Linked DNA regions of Homo sapiens. The protein of the gene in region 7 purifies or fractionates together with the protein of the main gene of each other region. This does not show direct contact. Each region holds a gene or a part of one and is shown on either strand. Other genes may lie near its edges.

Evidence for each region.
Region 1: the proteins of POLD1 (region 7) and RFC1 fractionate together in Homo sapiens (co-fractionation; one large-scale study listed by BioGRID). This does not show direct contact.
Region 2: the proteins of POLD1 (region 7) and TPR purify together in Homo sapiens (affinity purification with mass spectrometry, with the first as the bait; one large-scale study listed by BioGRID). This does not show direct contact.
Region 3: the proteins of POLD1 (region 7) and HNRNPUL1 purify together in Homo sapiens (affinity purification with mass spectrometry, with the first as the bait; one large-scale study listed by BioGRID). This does not show direct contact.
Region 4: the proteins of POLD1 (region 7) and KIRREL1 purify together in Homo sapiens (affinity purification with mass spectrometry, with the first as the bait; one large-scale study listed by BioGRID). This does not show direct contact.
Region 5: the proteins of POLD1 (region 7) and KIF16B purify together in Homo sapiens (affinity purification with mass spectrometry, with the first as the bait; one large-scale study listed by BioGRID). This does not show direct contact.
Region 6: the proteins of POLD1 (region 7) and GRK3 purify together in Homo sapiens (affinity purification with mass spectrometry, with the first as the bait; one large-scale study listed by BioGRID). This does not show direct contact.

The regions. Positions count from the first base shown.
Region 1 is NC_000004.12:39,355,995-39,360,018, reverse strand, and holds part of RFC1 (replication factor C subunit 1), read left to right. Parts: intron 1-4,024. UniProt on the Homo sapiens protein: Subunit of the replication factor C (RFC) complex which acts during elongation of primed DNA templates by DNA polymerases delta and epsilon, and is necessary for ATP-dependent loading of proliferating cell nuclear antigen (PCNA) onto primed DNA.
Region 2 is NC_000001.11:186,368,655-186,372,678, reverse strand, and holds part of TPR (nucleoprotein TPR), read left to right. Parts: intron 1-1,635; coding exon 1,636-1,709; intron 1,710-4,024.
Region 3 is NC_000019.10:41,262,826-41,267,557, forward strand, and holds the start of HNRNPUL1 (heterogeneous nuclear ribonucleoprotein U-like protein 1), read left to right. Parts: upstream 1-1,546; 5' UTR 1,547-1,678; coding exon 1,679-1,973; intron 1,974-2,039; exon of another isoform or gene 2,040-2,057; intron 2,058-2,255; exon of another isoform or gene 2,256-2,490; coding exon of another isoform or gene 2,491-2,518; intron 2,519-4,732.
Region 4 is NC_000001.11:157,991,945-157,996,546, forward strand, and holds the start of KIRREL1 (kin of IRRE-like protein 1 isoform 1 precursor), read left to right. Parts: upstream 1-1,700; 5' UTR 1,701-1,732; coding exon 1,733-1,784; intron 1,785-4,602. UniProt on the Homo sapiens protein: Required for proper function of the glomerular filtration barrier. It is involved in the maintenance of a stable podocyte architecture with interdigitating foot processes connected by specialized cell-cell junctions, known as the slit diaphragm.
Region 5 is NC_000020.11:16,500,282-16,504,305, forward strand, and holds part of KIF16B (kinesin-like protein KIF16B), read right to left. Parts: intron 1-4,024. UniProt on the Homo sapiens protein: Plus end-directed microtubule-dependent motor protein involved in endosome transport and receptor recycling and degradation.
Region 6 is NC_000022.11:25,718,071-25,722,094, forward strand, and holds part of GRK3 (G protein-coupled receptor kinase 3), read left to right. Parts: intron 1-174; coding exon 175-311; intron 312-3,213; coding exon 3,214-3,327; intron 3,328-4,024.
Region 7 is NC_000019.10:50,401,211-50,405,234, forward strand, and holds part of POLD1 (DNA polymerase delta catalytic subunit), read left to right. Parts: intron 1-567; coding exon 568-714; intron 715-788; coding exon 789-914; intron 915-994; coding exon 995-1,163; intron 1,164-1,243; coding exon 1,244-1,325; intron 1,326-1,401; coding exon 1,402-1,531; intron 1,532-1,842; coding exon 1,843-2,009; intron 2,010-2,282; coding exon 2,283-2,387; intron 2,388-4,024. UniProt on the Homo sapiens protein: As the catalytic component of the trimeric (Pol-delta3 complex) and tetrameric DNA polymerase delta complexes (Pol-delta4 complex), plays a crucial role in high fidelity genome replication, including in lagging strand synthesis, and repair.

The DNA.
Region 1 (4,024 bases), on a different chromosome or scaffold from region 7:
TTTCCATGGGTTTTTGGGGAACAGGTGGTATTTGGTTACATGAGTAAGTTCTTTAGTGGCGATTTGTGAGATTTTGGTGCACCCATCACCCAAGTAGTAGGTATGAATCCAGTTTGTAGTCTTTTATCCCTCACTTCCTTCCCACCGTTTCCCTGACTCCCCAGAGTCCACTGTATTATTCTTTTTTTTTTTTTTTTGAGACAGAGTCTCGCTCTGTCACCCAGGCTGGAGTGCAGTGGCGCAATCTTGGCTCACTGCAAGGTCCGCCTCCCGGGTTCATGCCATTCTCCTGCCTCAGCCTCCTGAGTAGCTGGGACTACAGGCGCCCGCCACCATGCCTGGCTAATTTTTTGTATTTTTAGTAGAGATGGGGTTTCACCGTGTTAGCCATGATGGTCTCGATCTCCTGACCTCATGATCCACCCGCCTCGGCCTCCTAAAGTGCTGGGATTACAGGCTTGAGCGACCACGTATTGTATTATTCTTATGCCTTTGCATCCTCATAGCTTAGCTCCCACTTATGGGTGAGTGAGAATATACAATGTTTGGTTTTCCATTCCTGAGTTACTTCACTTAGAATAATAGTTTCCAGTCCCATCTGGGTTGCTGCGAATGCCATTAATTCATTCCTTTTTATGATTGAGTAGTATTCCATTGTATATATATATCTCCCACAGTTTCTTTATCTACTTGTTGATTGATGGGCTGAATGACTTTATATTTTAAAAGTGCTCAAATCATTGCATGGCACAGAGTGAGGCCTCTAGAAAGTTGTGTTAAGTAAACAAAAGAAGTCCTGAATCAAGGCAGTGGCAGTGGGAATAGAGGGGAGAAGACAGCAGTATTTGGGAGATCGTTTAGGTTGGATGATTAGGTGGAGGGCCAGAGGGAGGAGGAAAAGCAGTGGCCATGTTTCTGTTTTGGGTGAATGGTGGTGCTATGCATGGAGATGGGGAATAAAGGGAGAGAAGCAGGTCCCAGCTGAAGATAAATTTAGTTGAGGACATTATTAGTTAGAGGCACCTTTGGGAGATTTGCAATGGGATGGATTTGGCTGCATGTTGGCTGCATAAATATGGAATTCAGAGCTGGTCTGGAGAAACAGACACAAGATTTAGGAAGTATCGGTATGTACATAAGTGGTACTGGGGTTAAGTAGGTGTGAGTTAGTTCGCACAGTGTGAGTGTGTGGTTCCGGAGTTTTGACTTGGGGTTCCCAATAGGCTTTAGGGGAAAACCCCTAACATTGGATACAAAGTTTTGTGCATATGTTTGTTTTTTCGTATTTCCGTGGAAAATATGTGTAGCTTTCATCCACAAAAGCATAAAAACAATTGGCATGATTAGTGGGAGAGCACCTGCTTTGTTTCCTTGGCACACATTTTGGCTTATTTTAATAAATGAGCAACTTGTTGCAGGTGTTGACAACTTCCTTCACTAGCATATAAGCTCTGTAAGGGCAGGGGTCACAAGGAGAGGGAACTGCCATATAGCGCGTGGCTCACGGTGCGTTTTCCACAAATATTAGAGGAATGAATAATTACAAGTGAACTTTATATTTCCACTAAAAATACAAATAAACTAGAAGGTAAAACTTCCTGGTATAAAAACATCTCTCGCACTGTTGCATGACTTTATATCTAAGCTATTAAAACACTTAGCGACAAATAATATTGCCTAGAGAAATACAGTTATTTTATTATGTTGTAGGTCTATTTTCAGTTTGGACTTAATTTCTTTTTTTTTGAAACGGAATTTTGCTCTTGGCCAGGCTGGAGTGCAATGGTGCGATCTCAGCTCACTGCAACCTCTGCCTCCCAGGTTGAAGTGATTCTCCTGTCTCAGCCTCCCTAGTAGCTGGGATTACAGGTGTGCACCACCATGCCTGGCTATTTTTGTATTTTTAAGTAGAGACAGGGTTTCTCCATGTTGGTCAGGCTGGTCTCGAACTCCCAACCTCAGGTGATCCACCCGCCTTGGCCTCCCAAAGTGCTGGGATTACAGGTGTGAGCCACTGCGCTTGGCCCAGTTGGACTTTATTTCTGTGTTCATTTAAGTAGTTTAAATTTGATTTTTTTGGCTCAGAAGTCAGTTGTAAAAAGCTAGCTTCTGGGCCGGGCGCTGTGGCTCATGCCTGTAATCCTGGCACTTTGGGAGGTGGATCATGAGGTCAGGAGTTTGAGACCAGCCTGGCCAACATAGTGAAACCCTGTCCCTACTAAAAATACAGAAAAATTAGCTGGGTATGGTGATGGGCACCTGTAATCCCAGCTACTTGGGAGGCTGAGGCAGGACAACTGCATGAACCTGGGAGTTGGAGGTTGCAGTGAGCTGAAATCGCCCCACTGCACTCCAGCCTGGGCGACAGTGCAAGACTCTGTCTCAAGGGAAAAAAAAAAAAAAGTTAGCTCCTGGATGAATAAAAACCATAATCGGAGTACATTAGCCCTGGTGAAAATGTCAAAATTCTGAAATAAACCATTAGATCAGGCATAAACAGTCTCAAATGCTTTAGTTATCCCAGTTATGCAGGTATGAAAAGATGCTTTTTAAACTTAAATTAGATAATTATTTCCATTTGCTATTTTAATATGCCTGTGTTGATTTGTATTTTTGGATCAGGTACCTGGAAACTTCTGTGATAGAGTATTTCATTGAATGCGTAGTCTAAAGCTCAATGATAGTAAATATTATGACTTCAGAATCTTATTCTTCCCTCTTGCCACAACAGCAGTAGAAATGGGTCTTTTTGCTGTCATGGGAGTGGCCTCTCAGGTAGACTTAACAGATACTGGGGTGAGTAGGGGAAGTAGTTTCTATTCTCTATTTCTGTTCCCTCAGTGTGCTTTATTTCTTCTGTTCTTTCTTTTCTGTGCTCTGCTTTGTTTTCTAAAGATGGATTAAAGAAAGATTAGGAACAGAAAGTAGAATGAAAGCTTCACAAGAACAGAGACCTAGCCTGTTTTGTTTATCCCAAGCATCAAAAATAGTTCTTGGTCCATAAAAGGCTCTGAGTAAATATTTCTTGAATGGATAAATGAATGATTGAATGAAAAAAGTTGATGCGGGCTCTTAAAATTCTTCCTAGCTAGAACTTGTTACTGTTCAAAAGTTTTTCAGACCACACTTATATTTCACTCACCAGTGTTTTCCTCAGAGAAGTTTTTGAGACCCATGCTAGACTGTTAAATTAGTAACATCAATTATAAATCTAGAGATATTTCTGATTTCTTTAAAAAAGTTATTAGTTTGACTTAAAATAAATTTTAAAGAAGAGGAAATGTCCTACTAAAAGTGAAAGTATATTTTTGTTTTTTGTAGCCACAATGTTTTAATATGAGAGTAACAGAAAATCAATTATAGAAACTCAGTTTTATTAACTTAGCTCAGAAATAATATATAATCAGCATTAATTTAATACCTTCTTAAAATTTCTTAGGTAAAGTCATAGCACAAAGTTAATCCCAATTAAAAGATTCTTTTAATACATAATCTTTAAAAACAAATCTACCATTTATTTTGGTTTACATAATCAAGAACCTCTCTTTCTGAGTGCAGTTGTGAAGGTCAGTGGCCTGAGGAATAACCGTTCATGTGTTCAATGAATTTTTTTGTTTTTAAGACGGAGTTTTGCACTTTTTCCCCAGGCTGGAGTGCAGTGGCGTGATCTTGGTCCACTGCACCCTCCACTTCCCGGGCTCAAGCCGTTCTCCTGCCTCAGCCTCCTGAGTAGCTGGGATTACAGGCACGTACCACCAAGCTCGGCTAATTTTTGTATTTTTAGTAGAGATGGGGTTTTGCCATGTTGGCCAGGCCAGTCTGGAACTCCTGACCTCGTAATCCACCCGCCTCGGCCTCCCAAAGTGCTGGGATTACAGGTGTGAGCCATCACGCCCTGCCTACCATTTCTTTTAGAAATGAAATTACTGGGCAAAGGGTATGTACCTTTAAAATTTTGGTAAGTGTGGCTAGATTGCCTTCCATAAAGGTTATACCAGTGTTTTTTTTTTTTTTTTTTGAGGTG
Region 2 (4,024 bases), on a different chromosome or scaffold from region 7:
CTTCCGAGATCAGACGAGATGGGGTGCCTTCAGGGTGGTCTGGCTGTAGACTGCTTCTGCTTTAAGAAAGCAAACATCAGAACATTAGGAAAGATCTCTATAAAGGTGTAATTAATTTTTTTTTTCCTTTTTTTTTGGAGACAGAGTCTCACTGTGTTGCCCAGGCTGGAATGCAGTGGTGCAATCTTGGCTCTCTGCAACCTCTGCCTCTTGGGTTCAAGCGATTCTTGCGCCTCAGCCTCCTGAGTAGCTGGAATTACAGGCATGTACCACCAGGCCCAGCTAATTTTTGTATTTTTAGTAGATACAGTGGTTCGCCATGTTGGCCAGGCTGGTCTTGAACTCCTGGCCTCGAGCGATTCTCCCGCCTCGGCGTCCCAAAGTGCTGGGATTGCCACTGTGTCTGGCTGGTATAATTAATTGATACTTAATATAGTTCAATTTTAATTTGATTGATGGAGAAGGAACACAGGAAGTTCATAATCAAATGATTAAAATTGCAGCTTTCCTTCTTAATGGGTCCATGACCATCAACTATTTAGGTTATAACTTTTTTCAGCTACTTTTGGTACACCTCATTTTAAAAACGTAATGTATATGCATACATGTGTGATGGAGCATATATAGCTAGATCTGGTTCATTATCTATGTAGTTTTGCCTAGCCATAATAAAAAGATCTGTTTAGTAGTAGTGCCGAGGAATTTGAGAAAAATGACTGAATACAGCTTTTACGAGATCTGGGAGAAGAGAAAAAGGGATGAACCTACAGATACATCAGATACCTTCCTGTGGTATACAGTTAATGTGTGCGCGCGTGTGTGTGTATTTATATACTCTGGATCAGTAAGTCTGGAAAGCAGTAAATAATATTAAAACAAAATAGAAAATTTAGACACATTTAATGGGGATTTTTTTGCTTTAATGGTCCTCTTTAAATAGAAGTTAAGATTAGAATTAATTAAAATGTATTTGCTTATTAAATTGCCAACATATGTATTTTAGTGAAATACAGTTTCAAAATGTATATTTTTGGAAAAATTTTAAAAATTATATTTTTTCTAGTTAGCCTATGTTTAGAAGAGAAACTGCATGTAAGGGAAAAGAGCCCATTTTGAGTGGCAATTGAGAGATTGATAAGTGCGTTATCAAGCATAATGTTTTTTCTTTAAAGGCTCTATTTAGAGTGATAAATGATAGGAATTGCAAATATTCATTATTGTGATTTGCTGTATATACATGTTATATAGTTTAAATGCTTTTTCTCTCTTGATCCTGTCTTTTTAACTCCATTTTCTTACTGCTAAGTACAGTTCACTGTTTCTTATGATATATGTTGACTTAGAAGATGGCACTGAAAAATAAAGGAATTACTAATTGCATGTGACTTTCCCCATAAATGTTGGCTAGGATTATTATACATTTGATTTGGAGACAGGATAGCATATTTAAAATTTTGGTCTAGAACACAGTAAATTTTGAATGCATTCATGAATTTGGAATGTGATGTACAATGCAGTCTTTCTGGGCTTCTGTTTTTTCATTTATTAAAATATGTAAGGTTGGCAGTTGCATAAAAACACTCATTGCAAGTTTTAAGCAAATGTGTATGTATTCATAAAATTCCTTTTATCCAGACAATCAACTGAAGGCACTAACTGAGAAAAACAAAGAACTTGAAATTGCTCAGGATCGCAATATTGCCATTCAGGTAAGAGATATTTCTTAGAATAAGCTCATTGTAGACATTTTACTTGAAGGGACATTCTATTCTGATTGTTTATCAGTTATTAGTCAATGGGAAGATGTAACTGATGTCCTATTAGGGGAAGCTACCAACAAAAATATGTAAATATAAATTCCTTAATTGGATCTATGTTTTATTGATAGATTGGACATCTCTTTTATTCAACAGAAATTATCTATTGAATGCTGACTGTAGTCCAGGTATTATATCAAATGTGATACAGTTGGGAATTTGGGTGAATCCACATTGGTAGTCATTTCCTTAGGGTAGTTTTATAAGAATGACAGTTTGAATATGATCACAGGGATTGCTGACAAATTTGTTAATTAAAGTGGTTGCATGCAATTATTTTTTAACCAGATACAACTTTATACTTTTGCCATTGCTTTTTTAAAATTTGCATTTTATTTGGTGTTAAAAGATAATTTCTTCACATTTCTGAAGGGAAAAAAAAATTTACTTCCAGAATCTGAATAGGCGCAAAAAAGCCTCGTAGTATACCTAGAAAGGCTTTGTAAGAAATGTATTTATATGAAGAATGACTCAATACCCAAGAAAACTCAAATACTTCTCTGAAAACTGTGAGAATATACCTTTATAAATGAAGATATTGCAAATTTCTGGATGGAAATGTTTTCCAAATTAATGTGTTGGTAATACATTTTGACTCTTAAGTCCAAGTCAGATAGCCAGAAACTTGTTAATGTAGTTCTAAAGATGATTGGGGAAAAAAACATAGTAATAGCTAGGATGCTTCTAAAAAAAGGAAGTATCAATTTAAATTAAGTACTTGCATAGCCACATATTCAAGTTTTATAAAGCTATGGTTATTAAAATATTACAATGCTGATATAAAAATCAGTACAGAGAATAAAAGGCAGTCCAGAAATAAAACCCAATACGGAGGTTCTTAATCTTTTGGAAAGAAGCAGAGCTGTCACAAAATCTTTATAAATCTTGTAAAAACTATGGATCTGTAACCGAGGAAAATAGTGTGCACACAGTCACATAAAATTTTTCAGAAAAAAAAAACTATGAAGTGACTTAAAAAGTAATAGAATTTATTTAACTGCTTGGTGGCTGAAAGAAAGAAACTGAAAGCTTTTTCACTAAGATCCAATGCAAGGCTGGGATGCCCACTCACCACTTGTATTCAGTATAGTACTGGACGTACCAGCAAGAGCAATCAGACAAGAAAAGGAAATAAAATGCACCCAAATTGGAAAGGAAGAAATAAAATTATCTTTACTTATAGATTATATGATCCTATATGTAGAAAACCTGAAAGATTCCACAAAAACCTGTCAGAGCTAATAAGTGAATTTATACAATTGAAGGATACAAAATCAATATTAAAAAATCTAGTAGCATTTCTATACACAAACAATGACCTAGCTGAAAAAGAAATTAAGAAAAGATTTCATTAGAGTACCATCAAAAAACAACTTAGGAATAAATTTAACCTGGGAGGTGAAAGATTCATATACTGAAAATAATATAACATTGACGAAAGAAATTGAAGATGCAAATAATGGGAAAGATATACCATACTCATAGATAAGAAGAATTATATTGCTAAAATGTCCACACTATAAAGTGGTAAAAAGATTCAGGCCAATCCTGTCAGAATTCCAAAGGCATTCTTCGCAGAAATAGAAAAAAAAAATTCTGAAATTCTGATGGAATCAGTTTTAAAAATCCTGAATAATAACCAAAGCAGTACTGAGCAAGAAAAACAAAGTTGGAGGCATCATACTTCATGATTTAGAAAACTGTTATAAAACTATAGTAATCCAAATAGTACAGTACTGACATAAAAACAGAAAAGTGACCAATGGAATAGAATAGAGAGCCTAGAAATAAATCCAAACATATGGTCAACTAATTTCAACAAGGGTGCCAAGAAGACCCAATGGAGTTGTGATCGTCTCCTCATTAATGGTGTTGAGAAGACTGGATTTCCACATTTGAAGAAATGAATGTTGGATGTTTGTGTTGCTTACATCATATACCGAAATCAAGCCAAGATGGATGAAAGATCTAAATGTAAGACCTGAAGCCATAAAACTCAGAGAAGTGAACATAGGGGAAAGGTTCTTGACATTGGCCTTGGTAATGATTGTTTGGATCACATCAGTAGTTCAAGCTGCAAAAAGAAATAAACGGAACTACATCAAACTAAAAAGCTTCTACACAGGAAACAAGAATATTAAAAGGCAACCTACAGTTCTGACATAGGTAGCTTGAGATAGATATTTCTAACTCAAAAACATGTAGAT
Region 3 (4,732 bases), 9.1 Mb from region 7:
GGTCAGGAGTTCGAGACCAGCCTGGCCAACATGGTGAAACCCCGTCTCTACTAAAAATACAAAAATTAGTCGGGCATGGTGGCGGGGACCTGTAATCCCAGCTACTCGGAAGGCTGAGGCAGGAGAATCGCTTGAACACGGGAGGCGGAGGTTGCGGTGAGCTGAGATAGAGGCCCTGCACTCCAGCCAGGGTAACAAGAGCGAGACTCCGTCTCAAAAAAAAAAAAAAAAAAAAAAGAACAACAAAAAAAAGAACTGGATGCGTCTGATCTGACGCACGCCTGTTTGTTTACGACTGCGGGGTGTGCCTTTGTCTGAGTAGAGATAGTGTGTGGCTTTTGCGGGCTTAACGTGTGGCTCAGGAGGCAGTGGGAGTCTGCATCATGTATCCCGATTGCGTCTTACTCGAGTTTTGTTTTGAGTTAGAGGCGACAGGTGGTGCAGCGTTAGACACTGGGAAGCTCTGTGGCTTTTGTATTCCTGAGCGCGAAGGTTAATGACGGATCCGTGGGGTTGAGCTTGTCGGTACAGACGCCAGACAGCCCGATTTACGGGAACAGCCGATTAGAGGATTCGGGAGAGCGGTCGGTGAACTTCTGGATGTCTTTCGGGAGGGGAAGGCTCTATGGTCGCGTGCAGAGCGCCCGTTCCACGTCAGGTACCCGACCATAGAGCAAGGCGGCCGCGGACTACCCAAGGGAAGGGGAGGCCGTGTCCTTTACAACTTGCCTCCCGTTGTTAGTCTAGTTTCTATAGCCAAACCTTCGGGACTCTCTCAACTCAAAATTTTGCTTTTCCTAAAGGCAACTGGGTTCCTTCCAGATTACGAACTGTGTATCCACTTAATCTCTATTTCGTATACCTCCTCCTACAGCGAAATTTGTGAGGCAGTCCTCTGAAGCACGGCCAATCTGGTGAACTTTTCCTAAAATGAGCCATCGCTACCAGCTTTAGTGAGCTAAGACAATAACTGCGATTGGTGGGCAGATTGTTTTGAAACCGCCCTAACGGCAAGGGGCGGGCTCCTGGTGAATTCATCTCTTTCCGGTTTCTTAAAGGCAACAGGAAGGAGGGGTTTCTGCCGACCCTCCATTTGATTGGTTCTAGTGGTTTTACCCGCTCGGACTCCTCAAGGGGCGGGAGATGTACACCAATCGGAATGTGTGTTACAGAGACACTTAGTTTGATGAAAGGACTGCGCAGGAAAGGCCGTGGGACACTCATTCTGAGATCTTACCGTTGATTGGACCAAATTGTTACTCCCTTATTTTCATTGGACCTTACGGCAGCCGGCGCGCGAGAGTTACCCAATCAGCAAGCGCTCCGCCTCCTGCCTTTTCCCGCCCTCCGCTCCGGCCTCGGCTTCGACGTAGGCCAACGCTTCCTCCCCAGTAGCTCCTAGGCCTTCTCGTGGCCGTTGTTTTGAAAACGGCGCTCTGATTGGCTAGGTTTCCGGGCCCGCGCCCGTTGCCCCACGCACTGACCAATTGGCACTCATGTAACATCGGACGAGGCACGAGTGAGGGGGGAGGCGGTGGCGGCGGCCATTTTGAGCCGCTGCCGCCATTGGAGTGGGCCCCCCCCCTTTCCCCCTTCGCCTCCTGACAGGAAAGGTTTAAGGGGGACAGAGCCCTGGGAGGCCGGGCCGGGCTCGGGGGCCACCCCGGGGGCCCGGGCCATGGATGTGCGCCGTCTGAAGGTGAACGAACTTCGCGAGGAGCTGCAGCGCCGCGGCCTGGACACTCGAGGCCTCAAGGCCGAGCTTGCTGAGCGGCTGCAGGCGGCGTTGGAGGCCGAGGAGCCTGACGACGAGCGGGAGCTCGACGCCGACGACGAACCGGGGCGACCCGGGCACATCAACGAGGAGGTCGAGACCGAGGGGGGCTCCGAGCTGGAGGGGACCGCGCAGCCACCGCCGCCCGGGCTGCAGCCGCACGCGGAGCCCGGCGGCTACTCGGGGCCGGACGGACATTGTGAGAGTGCGCGGGGCGGGGGCCGGGGAGCCCGGAGCCTGGGCCGAGGAAAGGGCTGTGGGACGCGGGAGTCCAGCGCCTGAGGTCGGGGAGACGACCTGAGGATCGGGGGATCCCGCTACCCGCCGCCGAAAAGGATCTGGGGACCAGGGCCCCAGCACGACCGGAGGGTGGATCCTGACACTCAGTGCAGGGGGGACACTGGGGGAGGGGCCTCTGGGTTTCGGAGGTGAGGGACGGGGGTGGCGGGGAGGATTCCGTACCGTAGGGATCGGAGACCGGAAACTGCTTTCTGGAGCCGAAGAGAGTCGGAAGAACAAGAGGTTTTCCGTTTGGGTTGGGGAGGGTCTCGAAAATGGGGATCCTAGGGTACGGAGCTCCGTGGGCTTGGCGGTCGTGCTAGCCCAGCGTGTGGGCTGGGGGGTGGGGAGCCGTGTTTCCAGGGTGGGGAAGGAATGTCCAGGTGTGCGGGGCTGCGAGAGTTCTGAGGAAGGAGGATCCTGGAATATGCCGCTGGATGCGATCCTGGGCGTTCTCCTATTTGGGTACGGGGGTGGGTGGGAGAGGTGGAGGCGCTGGTGTCTGTGGCTGGGGAGGGTCCTAATGGACTCAGTGCTTTGGAGTTTGGCTAGTGAGCATTTAGGGGCTGCGGGAGATTGAACTAGGGGGCACCCCCATCTCTCTTCCGGGGCTGGAAGGCCACCCTTGAAGCAGGCACAGCCTGGACATTAGGTGCTGGGAGATCTGGGGACTTTCTGGTTGGCTTCTAGAAGAGGTATAGGGAGCCCTGGTGTCCAGAGGCTGGCGGGGGAGAGGATGCTTTCCTGGACAAAGGATCTGGGGGTCTAGAGCTAAGAAAACTGAGGGCAAATAACTCTTGAGGCTGCTGCTGACTGGTCTGGAGCTAACTGTGGGGTTTTTGGAGAACAGAGGGTAGCTGGGGGTGGGATGGGGGCAGATGAGTTGGTAACATTCCAAGTGGATGAAATATGTGGCGGGAGACAGAGGATCCTGTGTCCAGCACAGGAGTACGTATCTGGCTTAGCGAATATGGGGAGGGGGGAGGCCGTAGGGAGCAAAGAGAAAGAAACCTGTTGACTTCACTGGAGGCCTCAGAGTGGAGTGTGGGGAATGTTTCTGGACCTGAGCGTCTCCAGGAGAAATCTCGACGGTTCCCAGAAGCAGTTATTTGTGTACCCAGGGAGTGGGGGCCCTCGGGGAGCAGCACGGAACTCTTCATCAGCCAGGAGCTGTGACTCTGGGAATGGGTTCGGGTAGACCTGCGGTTGTCTGAGGAGAGGAAAACCTGATATGGGACGGCGTGAATCTTCAGTTAGAAAAAAAGCAGCTTTCGGGCCGAGTGCAGTGGCTCACGCCTGTTATTCCAGCACTTTGGGAGGCCGAGGCGGGCGGATCACGAGGTCAGGAGTTCAAGACCAGTCTGGCCAGCATAGTGAAACCCTGTCTCTACTAAAAATACAAATATTAACCGGATCTGGTGGTGTGCGCCTGTAGTCCCAGCTACTCGGGAGGCTGAGGCAGGAGAATCGCTTGAACTTGGGAGGGGGAGGTTGCAGTCAGCCGAGATTACGCCATTGCACTCCAGCCTGGGCAACAAAAGTGAAACTCCGTCTCAAAAAAGAAAAAAGCAGCTTTCTTTCTCTTTTTTTTAAATACAGATGGGGGGTCTCGCTATGTTGCCCAGGGTGGTCTTGAACTCCTGGGTTCAGGTGATCTCACCTCGGCCTCCTGAAGTGCTGGGATTACAGGCGTGAATCACTGCACCAGGCCTCAGGGCAGCTTTCTAGTAGGACTGGGAAATGGGGGGACTGGAAAGGTTAAGGAGTAAGTAGAAGGGATTCTGGCGTAAGAGTTTGTGGAGTTTTTCTGAAAAGAGGGCACCCTGGGACTTGGGGCTAAGGGGATAAGGAGAGAAATGAGGTAACAGAAGAGACAGGATTTGGGGTTGGAATTGGATACTTGTTCATAAGAGAATTTCCCGGAGGGAGGAGTGTGGATTTGGGGTAGGCAGTGGCCTAGAGATTATCGAGGACCCAGGTGCTGGAAAGAGGACTTCCCATTGCAGAGACTTGTGAAGAAAGGAGTGGGCCTGTGTGTGTGTCTAGAGCAGGAGGGATCGTGGCAGGAATGCCTAGCAAGAAAGGGTAGTGGGTTAGTAGTGACCTGGTGGTCTGGGCAGAGAGTCATCTCTGAGAGGAAAGCGAATTAGGTGCTTTGGAGCGTAGACTCTAGACTAAGACAGACTTCGTTTCAAATCTGGCTTAAAGATATTGGCAAGTCACTTCACCTCTGTGGGCCTGGTTTCCTTAATGTGTAAAATGGGGTTAATCAACAAATAGTGTGTTCACAGCCCCTCCAACCCCTGAGGGGTGTTATGAATGAGATCACATGTGAAGGGCTTATCACTGGGCCTGCCTTTTATGAGAAGAGGGATGTTTTAGAGAATGGAGAAGGACCCTAGAATTATAGCTTCTCCAGGAGGGGCTGCCTCTGTGAACACAGGAGAGAGATGCTGGGGAAAAGAGGCTTTGTGGGAAGAGGAGCATTGTGCTTGGAGCCTGGAAGCAGCAGAATAGTTTGAAAGGGCCCCATATTCCAATTAAGGAGATAATGCTATTTCTTCCTCTCTCCCTTACTTGCTACAACAAAGTCCTTTGAGCCCCCTTCATGCCTCCCTTAAGCCCTCCTTCAACCTTGGTAAACAGACCGGTAGCAAACCACATGACCTGTGACTTTCC
Region 4 (4,602 bases), on a different chromosome or scaffold from region 7:
TCTTAAGCTGTGCTTGCCTGTGTTTTGGAATATATGAAGAATTCTCTGGGTCTGTGCATATGGGGCTTCTGCATATGAGCTTGGGTGTTTTCCTGCCTTTCTCTGTCTTCTAATTGTGTGTGGATGCGTCTGGACCACAGGCTGGTGTTAGTATCTGCGGAGGAAAGAGGAGCTGTGGCCGCTACACATCAACAGAGGGCACCAGAGAGCCACGCACCTACTTTCAGGGGCAGAAATTGAGAAAACTTGGCGGGGAGTGTTAGAGACCCAGGAGATCTGGGATCTGGGAGGAAAGAAGTGGAGACCTCTTTGGACCAACACATTACTGTAAAATTGTGCAATTCCAGCAACTTCTCTGTCCATTCCCTAGGGTCCAGACCTCTGGCTACCCGAGCAATCCTGTGAGCAGAAGTATCTGGTCAGGGGTGAGAAGAGGAGCTGGTTGCCAAACTGGGCCCTTAAGAAAGTGGAGATCCCTCCTGAATGCTCTCATGATTCTCAGGAATTCCCTTCCTTCCTAGTTCCTCCATGTCCCTACCCCAAAAGATCTCAAACTCCAGCGTGCTTAGAGATCTGACTGGTGGCTGTCTTCTCCTCTGGCTTGCATTCAGGGAGGTGAGGCCAGGTCTTGGCCCTTCAAAGCCATCCAGTTGGCTACCTTCTCCTTCGGGATGGGTGGAAGGCTAAGATGAACAAAGGAAGGGTCAACTGTGCCTCTTCCAGGCCGCTGAGTCCTCCAACGCCTAGCTGTGCTCAACCTTGACTGGGTGAAGCCAAGGCAGGGCCTCAAGGCAGGTCCAAGAGGCAGCTCCCATTCTCCAGTTCTGGGTTTTATAGGTGGGGAGAGGCATGTATGCCCCTCCCTTATCCAAGCATTCATTAGTCAATTGAGAATTCTTAATTTGGGGAATCTAGGGGCTAGACTTTGGGTGTGGAATTTAAAAAGAAAGGTCTTTATGTTTATTTAACTCCCTGCCCCCCACCCCACTCCTAGACACACACACGGAAACACACACACACACACACACACACACACACTCCCCATCACATCCTCTGAGCTAGAGGCTGATGTCCCTCAGCCCATGTTCCTCCTCCACTGCTTAGTTCCATAGCCCGCGACCAAGATTGCGTCTATAAATAGGAGGGGGTGGGGTGGCCAGGGGTCCCGTCGTGCCTGCCCCAGAACCCACGACGGTCACATTTTTCACCCCCTTTTGCCTTTGCCCTCAATTCCTTTCCCTCTTTGCTCTCCTTCCATCTCAGTTCCAGCGAGGGGGGTATGTGTGTGCGCGCGTTGTGGGGGGGCAGGGGGAGGGCTCGTGGAGGGAGGCGCCGTCGGAGGGAGAGTAGACGTCAGGCGGAGGGAGGGAGGCAGGCAGGCAGGGAGGCAGGGAGGGAGAGAGGGAAGGAAGAGAAGGGGAGAGAAAGGGGGAGCAAAGACCGAAAGAGACCCAGAGAGATACAGCTTGAGAGGAGAAATAATTAAAGGGGGAGGGCGACCAGGAGGAGAAAAAGGTCTGGGAGGAAAGAGAGATAAAGAGAATCGGAGGGCAGGGAAATGAGTTTGTGCGCGTGAGTGTGCGCGCGCGCGTGTGTGTGTGCAGGGGCGGGCGCGGGCGGGCGGGGGGCGGGCTCCCGGGCTCCCGGGCTCCCCTCCTCCCCAGCCCGCTCCTCTGGCTCGCTCGCCAACTCCGGGCCCCAGCCGCGGGCGGGCGCACGGCGGGCGGACAGCATGCTGAGCCTCCTCGTCTGGATCCTCACTCTCTCCGATACTTTCTCCCAAGGTAAGGGCCCCCAGCCCACCCCCGGACGCTCGGCTTCCCCCCGGGGCCGGGGCACTGCTTCCCCGGTGGGAGAGTGCTGGAGTGCCCCGCGGCCCGCGGCCAGTCCCCGGGTCCGGACGCCACGAGGCGGGGGCTCGGTCCGGGCGCAGAGCCCTGGGGGAGGGGGCGCGGAGTAACGAGGGGCTGGGGAGAATGAGTTTGCCGTTGATTTGCCCAAGTTGTTTCCTCTGGCTGCGCGGGAGAACCGAGCAATGGGGCCGCGAGGGCTGGAGGTCCGAGTAAAACGGGGAACCGAACGCTTTCTCTTGAGCTTCTGGCAGCCCTACCGACCCTCGCCCTCTGAGGCCGGGGTTCCGGACGCCTGAGTCCAGCCTAAGGGCAAGGCTGGGAAGAGGGTGGGATTTCGGATTTCGGGCGAGGGGGTGAGCGAAAAGCTGGGTCCCACCTCCCGAAGATGTTGCCAAGGGGATCCCCCTACTCCAGCCCAGCCCCTCGGGGGTCTGAGTCTGAATCACGGCTCCAGCCTGCCTGGGGCTGCCCCCTCTAGAGGAAGGGAGGGGTGTCTCGGCGCCTCTAGTGGGGATTTGGAACCCCTGCCCACGGAGGCTCTGGGTGGAGAGTGGAGTTCCACATACAGCTTCAGGCCCGCTTGATACAGAGGGGGGGAACTCACGGGGGCGGGGGCAGAGGCGGTGGGGGGAGGGGGCTGACACTCTACTTGGGCTCAGGAAAGTGTTGCTGTCTGGGGCTTATTTGACACTGGCAGGGGAGAGGCTGGGAGGTGAGGGAGGTGGTTGGGAGAGATGAGGATGTCAGTGTATCCTGGGCAGGGCTGGGGTTGGGGGAGGGAAGAGGGCTGAGGGAACCAAGGGTCCAGACTGCAGCAGGGACTGGGGTCTGTGGGAGTTGGTTCTTGCCTCCCAGGTCTGACTCTAAGGAAGACTGAATCCTGCTGAACTCCTTCCCTCCCCAAAAATGGAGCTGACACACAGAAATTGACACACAAACACCGTAAAACACTCACAGACACTGAGACAGACTACTCACCTACTGAGAGAGAGACATCCCCACAAACATCCCCCACACTGAGACAGACACATATACACAAAGACACGGAGACATCTGAGGAAGACAGATTCCTCCCCCAGATCGGCACACACTCACGCATTCATCCACCCGAACGTTACAACTATACACAGTACATGTATGCAGGCGTTTACAAGGACAGGACACACGCTCTCACAGAAACCAACCCTCTAGCAAACAAAGAAACTTGAACAGACATTCATATGGGCAGACACCTATGGAGATGTACAGACTGCAGATGGAGGAGGTGTCCTCTTTTAGGGGGTGTCTGGGAATGGATCTGGGTAGAACAGCCTCAGGCATTATTGCCCTGCTTTCTGTTCCCTTCCTGCGTTTGTAGGTGGTGTGTTATGCTGGACCTTTCCTCTCCTTGTCGGGTCTCTTCCCAGTTCCGAAGGCAAAGCCTGGCTGAGTTGGTGGGGGCACGTCTTGATTCATTTCTCCCCACAGGGCACCCATGCCAGCCCCCCAGCACACACTATGATATGGGAAGGGCACACATCTGTGGTGTGAGCCAGGAGTGGGAGGTGGTGCTAGGGGAAAGGAGGAGGCCTGGCCCTGGGGTTGGCAGGCCAGGCCAGCCACTTGGCAGAAAGTTGGGAAGATGACTTAAGTTCTGACTTTGTTCAGCCAGGCTGTTGGTGTCGGGGAGGAAGGGGGTGGGCCATGGTGGTGGTGGAGGGGGGTCATGTTGGTGGTGGAGGAGGCCCCTGGGTCAGTATTGGTCTATGTTGGGGGCAAGCTTATGTCTGTCCCTTTCTTACAGCCCTTACATGTCAGCATCATGGATACAAATGAGTGTTAAGGAACAAAAGCAGCAGTTAGCAAACAGGAGAGACATGTGGATTGAATTGGGGACAGAAAGAATTGTGTGTTGTGTGCCTTTCTCTCTTTGGAAAGGAGCGAGTGGCTAGGGAATGCTGAGCTCCCACTTCTCTGCTCCAACAGGGGTGAAAGCAGGACCTGGTGAAAGTGTCTGGGGTTGGGGGAGAGGATACCAGAGAAAAGAAAGGGAGAGACTAGACAGGAGGGGAGGGGAAATCACTAGTGAGTGTTGGGGGAAGCTTGGCAAGGGACTGGGGAGGAGGCAGAGAGGGAAGGAGTAGGGGTCTGGGGAGACTGGGACACACATGGGGGTGGAGAGCTTGGCAGGACCCCCTTTCCTTAGCCTCCATCCTCAGAAAGGAGCTCTAGGTCAGGGACTGGGGCAGTGAGAGAGGAAACGGAGGGGGGCGCTACAAAAGGGAGGAGGAATGATGGTGGGGGAATAGGGATGGGGGAGTAGGTGTCAGCAGGAAGCCATAGAATTGAGGGGAGCAGAGAGGAGAGGGGAAGGGGAGATTCAGCCTAGGCTGAGAAATAAAAATCGCATTTTAAAGAATTTCAATGGGCTTCATCAATCTTCATTTTTCACTAAATAATTTTCTGTATCTTATCTAAATGAAAACCATTATCCTTCCCCCCGTTTCCATCATGCGCCGGCTCCACAGACTGATTGCGCCGAAAATTGAAATATTTATTCATTTTCTGGGAGATTTTCTCGCTCCCTAGTCTCGGGGAGGAGAAATTGAAAAAGAAAGATTATAGCTAATCAGAGCAATGTGGGATGACAGGCCGGCTCGGGGAGGGAGCTGCCTCCGTGGGGGGGATGGATGTGGGGGCAGGAGAAAAATAAGCCCACCCAGCCCCCAGAGCTCCCCCTGGCATTCCTGCCACAGCTTTTGAGGGGAGT
Region 5 (4,024 bases), on a different chromosome or scaffold from region 7:
AAACTCTATTTCTATGGATTGTGTTCACGTCCTTTGCCCCCTTTCCTGCTGTGTTATGATGTTGTCTTATGTTTTCAATGAACCTCCTTTCCTAACATAAAAGGTAGTCTTTTGTTGCATGATCAGCAATCTTTTCCCTGGTCTGTATTGGTTAGAGCAAATTTTCATTATGTTATATAAATATGCTATGTTCTTACTTTTGTCTATGTGAGCTTTCACAGAATGAGAAAGAAGAGTTAAAATTTTCTGTGACAAATGTGTGTGGCTTTGTCTCCTGCTATTTCGAACAGTTTTGTTGTTTTTTTCAATTACGAAAGTTGATATCATGTCTGATTTTAATTGTTAGTTGCACCCTTTGTCGTGATAAAGTGCTCTTTTTTAAAGCTCACACAATGCTGTTTCTGCACCGCTTTCTTTCCTCTTGAATTCACTGGTTTGTCCATTCTTACAAACACCATATAATTGAGTTTTACTTTGTGACCCTATCTGAGATGTGTCTTCTTTAAAAGTTTACACATGATACTTTTATTATTTAAAATTTATCTTTAACCTCAGCTACAAGAGTGAGTAATTCATTCTACTTTCATCTTCCCTTTCCCATCATCTTCTTTGCTTCCCACCTTTGGTTGTGTTTTTCATTTCTATACTGTTTGATTTACTTGTTGTCTCCAGATACATTCAAGAGAGATGAGGAAGTCAAGAGACATTTTCTCTCTGCCAAATTAAATGCAGAAATAGCTGAAAATACATTTAAATATAATAAAAGAGAATAAAACCTTTAAAAAAGAAGATATTCAAATACTCAGCTTCATCAATCGCCTGAGAAGCACAAAGTAAAATTATTCTATGATTCTGGTATATATCCATTAGGATGGTTACAATGAAAACTGTACATTATCAAGTGTTGCAATACCAAGAATTGAACCAGCACTTTTATACACTGATGGTGGTCTATTAACTGGCACAACTACTTTTATACACCAAGAATTGAATTCTTGGTTCAATACCAAGAATTGAATTCTTGGTTCAATACCAAGAATTGAATTCTTGGTTCAATACCAAGAATTGAATTCTTGGTTCAATACCAAGAATTTAACCGGCACTTCTATACACTGATGGTGGTCTATTAACTGGCACAACTACTTTTAGAAAATTGCTTGGCAATATCTACTAAAACTGAACATATGTACTCCTCTGACTCACCAATTCCACTTGTAGACATAAATCTAACAGAAATGTATCCATATGTTCACTAAAAACATCTAGAGGAAAGTCTACAAAGCAGTAACAGCCCGAAATAGGAAACCCCTCAAATGCCCATCTAAAGTACAATGGACAAATGAGCTGGAATATCTTTGCATGATGGAAGACAACTTTGCAGTGAGGATAAATGGATCCACTACTACATGCAACAGCATGGGTGACTCTCACAAACATAATGTTGACTGAAAGAAGTGAGATCAAAAGAGTGAATATTTTTCATTATTTCATTTATATAAAGAACAAAAACAGGCAAAAATAAAAACTAACAAAGCCTGTAGAGGTCAGGAGAGTGGCTACCCTGGAGAGAAAGGGGAGTAGTTCCTGAAAAGAAGGATTAAGGGGGGCTTCAAGGATACTGGTACTGTACTGTCTCTTAAGAAGCAGGTTAGATGGGTGAATTTAGCTTATGAAAACTCACTGAACTATACACATATAACTTGCAATTTTGGGGGATAATACGTCAATAAAAAATTCAAATATATAAACTACTACATATATCTACATATCTAGATCTACATAGTAGAAGAATCAAATACATGTCAAAACCTTTTGCTTTACTAAAAAGGTGCTTTAAAAACTCTGATGCACATGACTTTTTGCAATGGGAAAGACAGAAAATTATTAAAAGTAGAAGTTGATTTTTATTTAGCTGTGCTTAAAAAAAATAACCCTAGAAATGGAACTCAGATTTGAATAACATTCTCAATGAACCACAGCAGTACCTGGTATAGAATATTCTAGGAATAGAGCAATACTCCCAGAAAAATGTATACAGAGATGTTTAATGGACATTTAAGAACACCTGCTGTTTTTATTAAGCTTCATAAATTTAATTAATTTAGGATAAGCCTATATTGTCTCAAAACAATTTACAGCTTCATAGCACGATAAATTATTTTAAATTGGATTCACATTTTTATTGTAATATATTGTATATCAAAAATTTTATCTGCAATGCGTTCTGAAATAGACTTAACTGTCTTTTATATCCTCACCCCCAAAATTACAGCAACAAAAATACTCCCTTAAACACAGCAGTGGTAATAAGTCATAAAAGGAAAAGGAAAAAAGACTACAAAATATAAGGCAACTATATGGCATAACAATACCTCTGAAGGCATTTTTCAGAGAGAAAATGTAAAGTTTCAATAAATTAAAGGTTTTTAATCTATATAAGATTCCTTCCAATGATGTCCTCAGTTAATTTTAAAAAGATAATATTTTTACCCTTCATTCTTTTAACCTAATAAAAGGTTAAGCACAAGAAACTGCACATAGAATTTTCCAAATACTTCCTTCACATATAGTAATTTGAGTGATCCAATCAAATCATCATTAAAGGCTTACTTTATATAAACAATGTTTTAAAAACACTGAGAAAGATGCCAGGCTGGGCGCGGTGGCTCACACCTGTAATCCCAACACTTTGGGAGGCCAAGGCGGGCAGATCACTTGAGGTCAGGAGTTCCAGACCAGACTGGTCACGTCGTGAAACCCCGTCTCTACCAAAAATACAAAAAAATTAGCCAGGCATGGTGGCAGGCACCTCCCAGCTACTCAGGAGGCTGAGGCATGAGAATTACTTGAACCCTGGAGGTGGAGGTTGCAGTGAGCCCAGATTGCATCACTGCACTCCAGCCTGGGCAACACAGTGAGACTCTATCTCAAAAAGAAAAGAAAAGAAAAAGATTCCAATAACAAGGTGTATAAATAAAAATGACTATTGTGGTTCATGTTATAAGGGCCTCATCACGTGGAGCTGGACTCTTCATTCTGACAACTTCCACCATAGAGCAAAATGCATGTGGAGATATTTTTAAGCACAATGAACAATTCCTATTCAACTGCTGTCCACCATCTTGTGGGAAAGAACTGCCAGGTACATTTCAGGACACAGGAAATTCAGTGAGGTTTTCATCCCATCAGTATTTTCAAAACATTTATGGGATGCCAAGAGCTTCAAGTGCCACATAATCCCACGTGGAAAGCACTGCTCCAACGGGACCACTCTGCACATAAAGAAAAGCATTTCTTTTCACGATATACTTAAGACATCCATTCATGAGTTAAGAAAGGAGGGTAACTCCAGTCTAACTTCAACATTTAAAAAAGCTATCCTTCATTTTCTTTCAAGGGTTGCCTTTCTTCACAGCAATATCAAAGCCTACCAGAACTTTACTTCCACCAATCATCACGGAATGTAACTCTGTACATACACCATGCAGACTATCAGGAAGCTTACTGAGAAAATCACAAAGACAAGGAATCTTCACTAGAATCCCAACAGATCCTAAAATGAGACTATTTCAACAATCAAGCGAGGGCCCAGGGACAGCATTTCAGCCAGATCACAGGTGTAATATACATGTGTCGCGGGGCCACCAGAACCACCTCTCTAATAGGTGATATGACACAGGCATTCAGAAAGGTGTTCAAACAAGTCTTTTATTCTGTTAAAACACATTTTAAAGTCATAAAATGCATGGGTGAAATTTTAAATACTATTCTAAGCATATCAATTTCTTTCCACTTAAAGAGATTATGCCATTAATCCTATTGCATAGTACATTTCCATTCATAATTGATAACTATTAGAGAGTTAATCATTTCAGGTTTAGTGGATAAAATCTTACACATGCAGCCCGTAATGAATGCAAAGGCTGACAAGAGGTTGATGTAAACGAGGGACTGGCTAACTCATTCAAAGCTTTACTTAGCACTTATTTACTCAAATCAATAGCATGAGTGAGAAAATTGTCTC
Region 6 (4,024 bases), on a different chromosome or scaffold from region 7:
TTAGATCCCCAGTACACATGCACTTAAAACTAAAATCGTGACTTCTGTAATGCGTTCTATTTATAGAAACCTGCTTTTTCCAAAAAGCATGTCTGTTCTTTTTTCAGAGAATAATGCTGCTAAGACATTTTGTTTCAGAGCCTATTTAACTCCTAGTGATTTTGTATTCCTCAGATTACGCTCTGGGGAAGGACTGTATTATGCACGGGTACATGCTGAAACTGGGAAACCCATTTCTGACTCAGTGGCAGCGTCGCTATTTTTACCTCTTTCCAAATAGACTTGAATGGAGAGGAGAGGGAGAGTCCCGGGTAAGTCTAAGGCAGCCTCACCGAGCATGTTTCCCAGTACGTACAATGGCATATGGTTATTTCATGTTGCTGACATGTTTTATACACTATCCTCCGAAACTCTGTGATTCTATTTTACTGCTCTACATGAGATTGTAATGTGCAAACTTTAACTTGTTTTTAAACTTCCAAGTCAAGGAACAACTTGGTAATACCTGAAAATAGAACATGCTTTTTAGTGAGGTCAGAAGCACCACATCATCAGATGGATTTGAAGAAGGCTGGAGAGCAGTTAGACAGATCTAAAAAGAAAAGACAAGCTGGACTTTGAAGTCAGACAGAGGTGTTCAGCTCCACTGCTGAGTGTCTCTGGGACTTTGAACACGTCACATTGACTCTCTCAGCCTCCGTTTTCTCATCTGTGAAATGAGGGAAATAGAAATCATAACAACTGCAGTCAGCCCTCCATATCCACAGATCCCCATCCTGGGATTCAAACAACCAAGGAGAGAAAATATGCGGGAAAAAGAAATTTAAAATAACAACAAAACAATAAAAACTAATACAGAAAAAAAACAACACAGTCTAACGACTGTTTACATAGCATTTACGTTAGAGGTGATTTAGAGTATACAGGAGGATGTGTGAAGGTTATATGCAAATACGATACCATTTTATATCAGCAACTTGAGCATCTGTGGATTTTGTATAATTTGGACCTGGGCAGATTATACATTTATTATGCTACTCAGGGGTTCCTGGAACCAGTCCCCTGTGGATACTAAGGGATGACTGTACTGTAATTTTTGCATGTTTATCTGAGGTCAAGTGCTGTTAAAAAAAAAAAAAACTCCATGTGTTTGGGAACCTTTGAGGGTCCAACTCTCATTTTATAAAGAGGAAAGCAGGCTTAGAAGAGGAAAGTCTGCCACCCAAAAACACAACTGGACAGTTAGGAGGTGGAAGGGTGACTCAGACCAGGTCATCCTGTGCCCTCAGTCTCTCCATTGTACGGCCTCTCCTAGTTGGGTCAAATAAAATGTCCCAGGCCATGACACTTGGCACAGAGATGAGGTCACCAAAAGATGCTTCCTTGTGTCTCCACCTTGTTGAGAATTTGTAGGTGGATCATACAACAGACAGCAAGATGTAGCTGCCCTCTAAGATCCTTTCGAGAGCTAATGTTTGTGAACAAGATAAAAAGAAATTTCTGATCCGCACTACCTTTCAGCAAATCAGGCAGCATTTATTAAGTGCCTACTGGGTGAAGAGCCCAGGGCTTGTCAACAAGGAAGGAGCCAACCCTGGTGGAAGGCATCTTTTCTTTTCTTGGTGGGGTGGGGGGGGGGCCTGGTGAGTCATCGTAAGCAGGACGATGGTCCCAAACACTCAAAACATTGTTTATGTGTTGGATATGTTGGAATACCACCCATCTGTTCTCCAGAGATCAGAAGTGTGGAAAACAGGGCACCTAAATCTCATGTATTTGACTTTGGACTGTATTTTTAGTTTACTGTTAGCAAAGTTTTCATTCAATTATGAATGATTACAATTGCATATCACTCCATTTCTTTGAAAAGAAAGAAGATCTTCCCAACCATCACTCCTGCCATCGAAGTTATTTTTGAAAAATTAGAATCTAGGATCTAAGTTCCAATTAATAAGATCCTTTTGGGGACCTGAAGTGTAACTCAGGGCTGGGAAGCATCAGAGTAGCTCCCCAAAGCTCACTGTATTTCCAGGTAATGAGCGGACCTGGGCAGATTATACATTTATTATGCTACCCACTGGCATGTTAAAAGGAAATCACCCCACTTTTCAGGCTGTTTGAAAACTTAAAAAAACAAAACTTTTACCTTTGTTTAACATTGGATGCAATAAATGAGCTTGGTTTTAAAAGGTTCAACATTTAGTGTTCTATTTAAGAAGCTACATAATATGCATGAGCAGATTTGTAAGTCTAAGTAAGGAAAAAGAAAACCTGAGTGTTTATCAGAGTGCCATTTCTCATTCAGGATTCCTGAAGTATTTATTTAAAACAAAAACCGTAAGACGCTAAGGAACTCATGACACTATAGCATTCACTTTAAGGAATAATACTATAGACTTTTTTTTTTTTTTTTTTTTTTTTTTTGAGACAGAGTCTTGCTCTGTCGCCCAGGCTGGAGTGCAGTGGCGCGATCTTGGCTCACTGCAACCTCCACCTCCTGCGTTCAAGCGATTCTCCTGCCTCAGCCTCCCGAGTAGCTGGGACTACAGGAGCCCGCTACCACGCCCGGCTAATTTTTGTATTTTTAGTAGAGACGGGGTTTCACCATCTTGGCCAGGTTGGTCTCGAGCTCTTGACCTCGTGATGCACCCGCCTCGGCCTCCCAAAGTGCTGGGATTACAGGCATGAGCCACCGCGCCCAGCCTATAGACCTTTTAATCTTTTAATGAAACCACCTCTATTTATGACATCATTGGGATACTATCAAAATATTGTTAGCTTACAAGCTGACATCAGTAAACATTTACTGAGTTGCTGCCTTAAAACTGAACCACACACCTTTGGCTCACATAAATCATATGTGGCTCTGTTGCTTCCTCACAATGTTATTGACAGAATGTATATGAGTGTGCCATACAGCAAGTAGGCTTGCGATTCATCATCATTCAAAATCAGTTCTGTGTTGAGGGAACAGCTTTGCCGTTTTTCCCTAGCAAAACATTGCTTTCTCTGCAGTTTTCCTTGAAACATTATAATTTGAACTTTTGTTTGTGTTCCTTTATAGCCATTTTCCCCTTACTTCTAGAATACCATCAAAGAAAGAAAACCGAATGTGTTTTCTTTTTTTACTTGTTCTAACTTGGTAGTTTTTGGTATTACTACTTAAGAAATCACAAAATAATTTGAATTTTAAATTTCTGTTTTTATGGTTAGCAAAATTTACTGACAATGGAACAGATTCTCTCTGTGGAAGAAACTCAAATTAAAGACAAAAAATGCATTTTGTTCAGAATAAAAGGAGGGAAACAATTTGTCTTGCAATGTGAGGTGAGTTTTTATTTTTTCTTAGGTGAATGTTAGAATAATTAAATATTCAGCAAAGTTGACTGCCTGTCTATAAAACATTTTCTTATGCCATGTTTTATCACTTACAAACTTAGTAAGAAAGCCCCAAGGTACAAGGTTTTCAGCAAATTCATCGTGATTTTTTAAAAAGGCAAATATTAGAAAATGGCAGGAGGATGCAGGTGAAATAATGTCATTACTCTATCTGGAAAATCTGCTCAGTATTTAATAGGGCTGGAATTTTATTTGTTCTATAACTTTGAAGATTTTTCGGCATGTTCGATGTTAAGGTTTATATATTTAGATAAATATAAGACGGCAAACTGAAATGCCATCTTCTCTAAACGAAAATGCCATCTTTTCCTCAAAGTTACATTGTAACACAAATTTCATTCCTGGACACTTTGTGACTGGTTCACTAGTGTGTGTGTTTTAAGAGAGCATATTTAGAGAAATAAACACGTATTAGATGCAAAAAAATCATTTTTACTAACATCAGTACTACATTACATACATGAATATATATTTAAAACATTTTTTAATTTGTCAAAACTCCTTCCCCTATATTATTATAGATTTCAGTTGTTTTAGAAATCAAAAGTAATCTCTAAACAAATTAAAGGCAGTGATTCTCAGAGTGGGATTGTACTGGAATCATCTGAAGGGTTTTAATGTGGCC
Region 7 (4,024 bases):
CCTGGGAGGTGGTTGAAATATAAATATAAGATATATATATATGATATATTCTTTATGTATTAATTTATGTATAACATATATTATATATTAATATATTTTGTAGAGACAAATATATTTATTTGTACATATAATATGTGTGTGTATTTGTGTATATGTGTATATATATATATATATATATATATTTTTTTTTTTTTTTTTTTTTTTTCTTTTTTTTGAGACTGGGTCTCGCTCTTTTGCCCAGGCTGGTCTCAAAGTCCTGGGCTCTAGCGATCCTCCCGCCTTGGCCTCACAAAGCACTGGAATCACAGGTGTGAGTCACTGTGCACGGCCAGTTGTTTTTATCTTGTAATAAAAAAGAAGGGCCTCCCTGTAGTTGTGCTGTGGAGAATGGATCCTGGGGGATGAGGCTGGAGATGGGAACCAGGGGGGAGGCTGAAATGGACACAGGGAACGGTACAGGGGCAGGAGTGCCCCAGGCTGCAGGCCCCAAGGTATTTCGAGGCTGTGGAGACACACCTTGGAGGACCCTGAGAGGCATGGCCGCTGTCTTACCCTGTGACCCCACAGGCCCAGCGCAGCCTGTGCCTGGGGGGCCCCCACCATCCCGCGGCTCCGTGCCTGTGCTCCGCGCCTTCGGGGTCACCGATGAGGGGTTCTCTGTCTGCTGCCACATCCACGGCTTCGCTCCCTACTTCTACACCCCAGCGCCCCCTGGTGAGTGGCCCCTACCCAGCCCCTCCCTGAGCCACTGGAGCCCCCTGCACCTCTGATCATCCCTCCCACACCAGGTTTCGGGCCCGAGCACATGGGTGACCTGCAACGGGAGCTGAACTTGGCCATCAGCCGGGACAGTCGCGGGGGGAGGGAGCTGACTGGGCCGGCCGTGCTGGCTGTGGAACTGTGCTCCCGAGAGAGTGAGTGCTCCCCCAGGATCAGCGGGTTGGAGGGTCCCCTCGGGAGGCCATTGGCTGGTCCCAGCTTCTTCCATCCACAGGCATGTTTGGGTACCACGGGCACGGCCCCTCCCCGTTCCTGCGCATCACCGTGGCGCTGCCGCGCCTCGTGGCCCCGGCCCGCCGTCTCCTGGAACAGGGCATCCGTGTGGCAGGCCTGGGCACGCCCAGCTTCGCGCCCTACGAGGCCAACGTCGACTTTGAGATCCGGTACGGCCTCTGCCTCACTTCTCCGGCCTCTATCCCCACCCTCGGGCAGCCCCTGTCCACTGACCCCCAGCCCCCTCCAGGTTCATGGTGGACACGGACATCGTCGGCTGCAACTGGCTGGAGCTCCCAGCTGGGAAATACGCCCTGAGGCTGAAGGAGAAGGTGCAGGGCTTCCCAGGGCAGGGCTGGGTGGGGAGCTGGTACCCTGCTGCCACCGCTGACCCACCCATGCCCACAGGCTACGCAGTGCCAGCTGGAGGCGGACGTGCTGTGGTCTGACGTGGTCAGTCACCCACCGGAAGGGCCATGGCAGCGCATTGCGCCCTTGCGCGTGCTCAGCTTCGATATCGAGTGCGCCGGCCGCAAAGGTCTGTCCCCGGGCCCGGGCTCCTGCCCGCCTCATTGATGTGCCAAGTCGGGGGTCGGAAAGGCAGGTCCGGTGGAGGGAATGGCAAGCATGAAGGTGCCGGGGCAGGAGCACCCCAGCCCATGTGGCCAGATGGAGTGAGCACAGAGGGTGTGGAGATGGCCTGGAGGTGAGAGCAGAGCAGGAGCCAGGGTGAGCCACGTAGGGCCGGCAGGCAGCGGGGACAGCCCCGGGGAGATGGCAGGTGCAGCCTCCCTGCTGTGTTGGGAGTGAGGGGCAGGAGTCAGGCCCCTGCATCCTCCTGCCTCGCAGGCATCTTCCCTGAGCCTGAGCGGGACCCTGTCATCCAGATCTGCTCGCTGGGCCTGCGCTGGGGGGAGCCGGAGCCCTTCCTACGCCTGGCGCTCACCCTGCGGCCCTGTGCCCCCATCCTGGGTGCCAAGGTGCAGAGCTACGAGAAGGAGGAGGACCTGCTGCAGGTAGCTCTCGCTCCACGCCCCACACCATTTCCCGGGGTCCCCGCCAGCCTCCGCGTCCTGAGCCATCAGCTCCTGGGTGCTGCGACGCCCATGTCTGTGGGTCTGGGTGGGTGTCTGTGGGTCTGGGTGGGCCCCTGTGCAATTAGGCTTGAGCACTTCCCCTCTGGGTTCTGCAGGATTTTCAGGGGTGGCTGGGGTTCTAGAACATTCTGGAAGTAGGGGAATCCGAGGCAGGGCAACCACCAGGGTGACCCAATGTGCTCCCACCCCCAGGCCTGGTCCACCTTCATCCGTATCATGGACCCCGACGTGATCACCGGTTACAACATCCAGAACTTCGACCTTCCGTACCTCATCTCTCGGGCCCAGACCCTCAAGGTGAGGGCTGGGCAGGTGGGAGGCTTCTCTCAGATGCCCCAGGTGTGGCCTCCGGGCCCTGGGCCTCCTTCCCACTCCCTCTCCACATGGCTTGGTGCATCTTGCTCTGTGTGCCTCAGCCGATTGCCTGCAGGGGCAGCCTAGGCCTGGTCCTGCCCTGCTCCAAGTCGAAAAAGTTACTGTGGCTTTTATCAGAGGCAAGGAGGGCGTTACGGTGGAGTAAGAGAAGGCTGTGCATTCAAGGTCGGCCTGAAGCTTGCAGGGGTTCAACAAGCCATGAAGCAGCCACTGAATCCCAGTCTTCCTTTAGGTTATATCAGCATAAGGAAAAGAATCATAATGGAGGAGGAGGGGGGAGTGTGTTGACTGATGGGGCAAATTCCGGATGCTTCTTGAGTCTGCATGTGTGTAAGGGTGGATTCCTCTGCCCGAGTTGCTGTAACAAAGAGCCACAGACCAGGTGGCTGAAAACAGCAAAAAGTCATTGTCTCACCGTCCTGAAGGCTGGAAAGTCCATGACCAAAGTGTCAGCGGGCCTGCTTCCTTCGGGGGCTGCAAGGGAGGACTGGTTCACGGCCTCTCTCCTTGGCTTGCAGACGGCCATCATCCCCCTGTGCCTCTTCACACCGTCTTCTCTCTGTGCGTGTCTGTTTCCACATGTCCTCCCTTTTTTTTTTTTTTCCAAGACAAAGTCTCGCTCTGTCGCCCAGGCTGGAGTGCAGTGGCGCAATCTTGGCTCACTGCAAACTCCGCCTCCCAGGTTCATGCCATTCTCCTGCCTCAGCCTCCCAAGTAGCTGGGACTACAGGCGCCCGCCACCACGCCTGGCTAATTTTTTGTGTTTTTAGTAGAGACGGGGTTTCACTGTGTTAGCGAGGATGGTCTTGATCTCCTGACCTTGTGATCCGTCTGCCTCGGCCTCCCAAAGTGTTGGGATTATAGGCGTGAGCTACTGCACCCAACCCCTTTTCTCTTTCTTTTTTTTTTTTTTTTTTTTTTGAGACAGAGTCTCGCTGTGTCGCCCAGGCTGGAGTGCGATGGCACGATCGAGGCTCACTGCAACCTCCACCTCCCAGGTTCAAGCGATTCTCCTGCCTCAGCCTCCCAAGTAGCTGGGATTACAGGCGTGAGCCACCACGCCCCGCAAATTTTTGCTTTTTTGTTATTGTTTCTTGAGATGGAATTTCGCTCTTGTTGCCCAGGCTGGAGTGCAATGGCACGATCTTGGCTCACCACAACCTCCGCCTCCCAGGGGGCGCTGGGGTGTAGAAGTGATTCTCCTGCCTCAGCCTCCCAAGTAGCTGGGATTATAGGCACCCGCTTCCATGCCCGACTAATTTTGTATTTTTAGTAGACAGGGTTTCTCCATGTTGGCCAGGCTGGTCTCGAACTCCCAATCTCAGGTGATCTGCCCACTTCGGCCTCCCAAAGTGCTGGGATTACAGGCGTGAGCCACCGCGCCTGGCCTATTTTTGTTTTTGTTTTTGTTTTTTTTAGCAGAGACTAGGTTTCATCATGTTGGCCAGGCTGGTCTCCATCCTCACCTCAGGTGATCTGCCCACCTCAGCCTCTCAAAGTGCTGGGATTACAGGTGTGAGCCAGTGCACCTAGCCCACATGTCCTCTTTGTGTAGTGAC